2 linked regions of the Homo sapiens genome follow. The protein of the gene in region 2 purifies or fractionates together with the protein of the main gene of each other region. This does not show direct contact. Each region holds a gene or a part of one and is shown on either strand. Other genes may lie near its edges.

Evidence for each region.
Region 1: the proteins of SAR1B (region 2) and CARHSP1 purify together in Homo sapiens (affinity purification with mass spectrometry; one large-scale study listed by BioGRID and IntAct). This does not show direct contact.

Annotation. Positions count from the first base shown.
Region 1 is NC_000016.10:8,852,447-8,855,726, forward strand, and holds the end of CARHSP1 (calcium-regulated heat-stable protein 1), read right to left. Parts: intron 2,881-3,280; coding exon 2,718-2,880; 3' UTR 501-2,717; downstream 1-500. UniProt on the Homo sapiens protein: Binds mRNA and regulates the stability of target mRNA. Binds single-stranded DNA (in vitro).
Region 2 is NC_000005.10:134,619,329-134,622,828, forward strand, and holds part of SAR1B (small COPII coat GTPase SAR1B), read right to left. Parts: intron 1,725-3,500; coding exon 1,605-1,724; intron 1-1,604. UniProt on the Homo sapiens protein: Small GTPase that cycles between an active GTP-bound and an inactive GDP-bound state and mainly functions in vesicle-mediated endoplasmic reticulum (ER) to Golgi transport.

The DNA of each region.
Region 1 (3,280 bases), on a different chromosome or scaffold from region 2:
AGCCAGGCATGGTGGCATATGCCTATAGTCCCAGCTACTCAGGTGGCTGAAGGAGGATCACTTGAGCCCACAAGGTTAAGGCTGCAGGGCAACAAAGCGAGACCTTGTCTCAAAAACACAAACAAAAAACACTTCTATAGCAGGAATGAGCCAGGGACTGTGGACAGTGTGCCCCGAGGCCCGTCCTCTCTTCCCACAGCTGATGGGGATGAGGTGTAACTCACACATCCTAAAAGCTTCAACAGGGCACTGGAGCGCCGCTGACCAAGTTACTGGCATTTTCTATTGCCAGGAAGCCGCATTCTCCTCTCTGCTAAGCTTTCTCATGCTAGAGAATGATGACTAAAAAACAGATGATCCCATCTTCTTATTCACCATCCCCTAAAAAAAACAGACTGCCACGTGGAATGTGTCAGCCTCACCTGGGGGAGACACCCTTATCTGACGACTTAAAAGGAAAAACTTGGTGAGCCAGCCTCCACACAAACACACGCATAGCCTTGCACAAAACAAAAATTTATTGGGAGAAAGATGGCTGATGGGAGGCAAGATCTGGATTCAGGAATCCTCAATTTTAGCTCTCGCTCTGTCACCAAAACCCTCCGTCCCTCCCAGAGCCTCGAGGAGTTTCCCCTTGTGTAAACCGGTATCGCGTCCCTTCCAGCTCTGACATCCTGCGGTTCTAGAATACCCATTGATTGAAAGAGCTGTGGCCAAACAGGAAGGACAGAGTAAGAGCCGCTGACAAAGGATTCTGCCAAGACAGAATCCCAGGGTCACAGGAGAGAGGCTTGGGGCAGTGAAAGCCCTCTCGGGTCTTGGCTGTGGAAGTGTGGACTGTACCAGCAGATGGGCCCTTGGGAAGCCAACAGGGAACAATTCAAGGCTGGAGAGAAAAGGCCACCTTTGACCCAGCAGAAGGCAGAGGCGGGAGAGGAGGGTGAGGATGTACAAGGAGCATCGCAGGCGAGGAAACAATGGCCAGGACCTAACTGTGGTGGGAACTGCCTTTGTCTCCACACACTCGCAATCAACATGCGTATTTGCTATTCTCAAACAACTCCCTTCCACCCCCTTAGGCTGAAAGGACAAACTCATCAGAGTTGAGGAGTACCTACCTGATGAAGCTGTTCATGCTTCCAGCATCAAACTGGACGTTTACTGTCTGCCCAAAAGCCAGTTTCCAAAAGGTTTGCTTGCCTCTGTTCAGTGGATTCTTGACTACATATAGGTCATATATTTCAAAAAATAATGCCTAGCTATTTCTACTTTGAAATCATGACTAAAGCCAAACCACAACCACAGCAAAGATAACCTAAGGATTTGTTTACCAGAAATACCTACAAAAAAGTTTGCAGGCCGGGCGCGATGGCTCACACTTGTAATCCCAGCACTTTGAGAGGCCGAGATGGGCAGATCATCTGAGGTCAGGGGTTCAAGACCATCCTGCCCAACATGATGAAACCTGGTCTCTACTAAAAATACAAAAATTAACCGGGTGTGGTGGCGCATGCCTGTAATCCCAGCTACTCAGGAGACTGAGGCGGAATTGCCAGAACCCTGGAGGGCAGAGGTTGCAGTAAGCTGAGATCGGGCCACTGCACTCCAGCCTGGGTGACAGAATGAGACTCAGTCTCCCACCCTGCCAAAAAGTTTGCAATGTCGGCAGCAAAGTGCAAACAGAGCCGGCTCTGGGTGAAAGCTTTAGTTATGAAAAATAAGAAAAAAAAAATCCCTAAGCATTTCTTAACACTAGTTTTAAAGAAAACCCCCTCTCCAAAGGTATGTTTCTCCTTCAACTTTCTTGACTTTGCCAGGCTGTCAGGATGCAAGCTACCTACTCTTTTCTGGATGGATCGGGACAAAGTTTTTAAACAAAGACTGTGTCCTCTCCACAAGCCCTTCCCACCACCACCACCCCAGCCCCCCGCCGCCATAATTACAGGGGCTGTGAAATGGCTGTTGAGTGATGGTCACACAACCAGAAGGCAGATGAAAAGGTCAGGCTCTAAGAGGGGTTCAGCCTCCCAGTACCAGCCTGCTGTGCCCAGGGGTGGGAGTGCTGGGAGAACTGTCTTCCCCAGACAGGCAGCTATGCCGCCTCCCACTGCAAAGGCACCAAAAGGCAACATCCGTCCAATCCAAAGACCGCCACCCCCGCCTTTCCCCACCCACTTCAAGCCAGCTCCCCTAGAACCAACCAAGCCAAGAATTAGAAAACTGCTTTGCCCAGGCCCCAGGAGAGGCGCAAGGGGCACTTAGGTGGAAATTTGCCTTGGAGAAGTCACGCAAGGTCCCTGTCAGGCTGCCAGGGGGCCAGATCTGGGAATCTGGGGCCTCCAGCTCCAGGAGGAAGAGGGATTCTGTGGGTTGAGCCCATGTGTCTGAGCAGCTGGAGAAATACCACCCTTGATCCACTCCCTGGGATGGGGTTGGAACCTCCACTCAGCCACCAGTGGGCACCTCTCCTTTTTAAATGCTTTTAATGCTCTTCAGATGGTGAGAGGTTGTTGCAATGGTCATAGGCTGTGCTGATGGCCGGGAACACCCCACACCCCACACCTGCCCCCCATACCCCTTCCTCCAGGAGATACTTGAGAGGGACCATGCCCGGCTGAAGCCCCGTCTCGTGTGGAAGAATGTCATCTCCAGTGTCTGCTGCCTCCTCCCTGCAAAGTCTCCCACAAGCACAGGACAAGGGGTGCTTCCACCATCTCCTAGGAGCTGATGACATGTCCAGACCAGGTCTCATGCTTGGTGCCTGGTGCCAGGTGAGTGATGACGACCTCCACGGCCTGCAGCTTCTCATTCTTGGGTGGGATGGAGCACATTTTATAGGTGACCTCGTCGCCTTCCACTGGGACATACTCCCCTTCCACACTACGGGGGCATAAATAAAGCAGTCAGGGCTCACACCGGGACACAGCTCCCTTCCCCAAGACACCAGCCACCCTTCTGGTCACACAGCCACCAAAGCAGGCACCATCTGACCAACCACCGGGAACCTCTTTCCAAAGAACTGCCCCTCCACCAGAGGGAGCTGCCACACTGCCCCCAGCCTCTGTCCTAGGCAAGGAGGCCCTGGCCCAATCAGCTCCTTCCCTGGGACTTTTGATGCTGGAACTGAAAGAGTTCAGCCACCTGTGGGTGCTCACATGGTGACATGAAATGTGGGAGGGAGCCTGGGCTTGTGACTGAAGAGTAAAGACAGCCAGTCCAAGCCAGAGAGCCAGAGAGAAACAAGGCCATCATGGAGTGAGAATCCGAGTTGAGGGGTGGC
Region 2 (3,500 bases):
TCAAAAAAAAAAAAACTTTCAATTTTTTTGGTATTTTTTGTTTCTTTAGAGACAGGGTCTCACTCTGTTGCCCAGGTTAGGAGTGCAGTGGTGCAATCATAGCTCAGTGAAGCCTTGAACACCTAGGGTCAAGTGATCCTCCTGCCTCAGCCTCCCAAGTACCTAGGACTACAGGTGTATGCCACCATGCCAGACTAATTTTTTGTTTTTGTTTTTGTAGAGATGGAGTCTCAGTATGTTGCCCAGGCTGGTCTTAAACTCCTGGGCTCAAGTGATTCTCCTGCCTCAGCCTCCCAAAGTGCTGGGATTACAGACATGAGCCACCACACCCACCCTTGTTTTAAAACTTCCTGTGTGTCAATATATGCCTTGTTTTCTTTAGATTAATTCTGTGGTGTACATTAGATATTGTTGAGGTTATTAAGACTAGAAAAATAACTGGTTAACAAATTGAGTTACCAGCCATGTATAAAATTGTAATGTATCTACTGAATTAGTGCTTAAAATAGTACATGGTGCAATGGCTCCTATCTTTAATCCCAACACTTTGGGAGGCAGAGGCAGGAGGATCACTTGCACCTGGGAGTTTAAATGGTGCGCTATGATCATACCACGGCACTCCAACCTACATGACAGAGCAAGACCCTGTCTCTACACAAATAAAATAAAGTAATATGGCTTTAAAATCTGAAAGAAGCCTGGGCGCGGTGGCTCACACCTGTAATCCCAGCACTTTGGGAGGCCGAGGAAGGCGGATCACAAGGTCAGGAGATCAAGACCATCCTGGCTAACACGGAGAAACCCCGTCTCTACCGAAAATACAAAAAATTAGCCGGGCGTGGTGGTGGGTGCCTGTAGTCCCAGCTACTCGGGAGGCTGAGGCAGGAGAATGGCGTGAACCCGGGAGGTGGAGCTTACAGTGAGCGGAGGTCGTGCCACTGCACTCCAGCCTGGGCGACAGAGTGAGACTCCACCTCAAAAAAAAAAAAATCTGAAAGAAAAAATTCAGGTTATGTAAACAAGGCGATGGTGGACTATTTACCAATCATGTCACAATCCCTCAGACAAAAACTTTTTAATTCCTCAAGCTAGAGAAGGGAGTACTAGCTGATAAAAAGGTATGAGTACTAATTCAAGATCTAAATATTCTCCCTGGGAGCGAGGTCACCTATAATTTATTATTTTAGGAACAGGTCAAATCACCTGATCATAATTTATCTACCAGAAAATGCCCCCCAAACAAAAAACTTGGCCAGGTGCAGTGGCTCACGCCTGTAATCCCAATACTTTCGGAGGCTGAGAGAGGCTGATCACTTGAGCTCAGGAGTTCAAGACCACCCTGGGAAACATATCGAAACCTGGTCTCTGAAAAAATATAAAAATTAACTGGGCATGGTGGCACATGCCTGTGGTCCCAGCTACTTGGGAGACGGGAGGATGGCTTAAGCCCAGGAGACAGAGGTTGCAGTGAACTGTGATCATACCACTGCATTGCAGCCTGGGCAACAGAGAAAGACCCTGTCTGAAACAAAACACTTTTGGTTAGTGCATATGACTCAGCATCATTTGATCAAGTATCACATTGTATGTAGGAATATACTTACTGGGATGTAATGTTGGGACATGTTGTCCAAGTCTGTCATCTTTTAGCATGTGTAGCAATGTTGTTTTTCCTGCATTATCCAATCCAAGAAATACCAGTTTACCAGTTTTCTTATATAATCCTGCAAAGCAAGAGCTATGATTGGTCAAAGTGATATCTGATACTAATTATCCAAATGAATTTAAATTTGGCCCAATTAAGCTTGAAGTTCTAAACCTATTTTCAGTTTTAAAAAAGCTATTTTAAATCTATTCATGGCCGGGCACGGTGGCTCACACCTGTAGTCCCAGCACTTTGGGAGGCCGAGGTGGGCGGATCACCTGAGGTAAGGAGTTTGACACCAGCCTGGCCAACACGGTGAAACCCCGTCTCTACTGAAAATACAAAAATTAGCCAGGTGTGGTGGCGCATGCCTGTAATCCCAGCTACTTGGGAAGCTGAGGCAGGAGAATCACTGGAACCCAGGAAGCAGAAGTTGCGGTGGTGAGCTGAGATCATGCCATTGTACTCCAGCCTGGGCGACAAAGTGAGACTCTGTCTCAAAAAATAAATAAATAAATAAATAAATAAATAAATAAATAAATCTATTCATGATTTGGGACTTCAGATAATTATAAAACCAAACTTCAACCCAGTCAATAGAATATGTGTTTTGCCTTAACATATCTACAATGCCAAAATGCTGATTAATTTTAGAAGTATCAATCAGGTATTGATTGATAGATAAATTGATAAATAGAAAAAAGGCAGCATTGACCAATTTATAATAGACTGGAATTGAACTGCTAAATTTCATATTGAACTTAATTAATTGATTTATTTAGAGACAGTGTCTTACTCTGTTGCCCAGGCTGGAGTGCTGTGGCATGATTACAGCTTGCTGCAGCCTCAACTTCCTGGGCTCAAGTGATCCTCCCACCTCAGCCTCCTGAGTAGCTGAGACTACTGGTGTGCACCACCACGCCTGACTAATTTTTGTATTTTTTGGTAGAGATGGGGTTTCACCATGTTGGCCAGGCTGGCCTCAAGTGATCTGCCCACCTTGCCCTCCCAAGGTGCTGGGATTATCAGCGTGAGCCACACGCCCAGCCAAACTTTATTTTTTACATGTTTAATGGTCTAACCTCCACAAAATTACATGTGAGCCACCACACCTGACTGAAATAAACAAACTTTTAAAGACATTAGGCAATTATAGTTTCAGGCCATCCGTTTTTGAATAGATTCATACTAAAATAACACTTACTCCTTTGTCCATGCTTAAGTCTAAGAAGTAAATTGTTTGATGTCCTAATCTTTTAGTTTTGGGGGCAGAACTATATATATATTTTATCATTAAGGAATCTACTTCTATGACTGTCACTACTATGAGTGTCACGAAAAAGTAATTTGCCCAAGATTACATAATTTAAAAGTAATTGAACATATTTGTTCAATCGAGTAATTGAACATATTTGTATAATTACAAAGCCCATATTCTTTTTTTTTTTTTTTTTTGAGACGGAGTCTCGCTCTGTCACCCAGGATGGAGTGCAATGGCATGATCTCGGCTCACTACAACCTCCGCCTCCTGGGTTCAAGCGATTCTCCTGCCTCAGCCTCCCAAGTAGCTGGGACTACAGGCGCGTGCCACCATGCCTGTCTAATTTTTTGTATTTTTAGTAGAGACGGGGTTTCACCGTGTTAGCCAGGATGGTCTTGATCTCCTGACCTCATGATCTGCCTGCCTCGGCCTCCAAAAGTGCTGGGATTACAGGCGTGAGCCACCGCGCCCGGCCTTAACTATTCTTAACTATTGCTTCATATATAAAGAGGCTCAACACAAATAAGCACTATTATATAAATAAAATTAAAGGAGATAACTATAGAGAACAAAGGACCAATATTACCTAGAAAC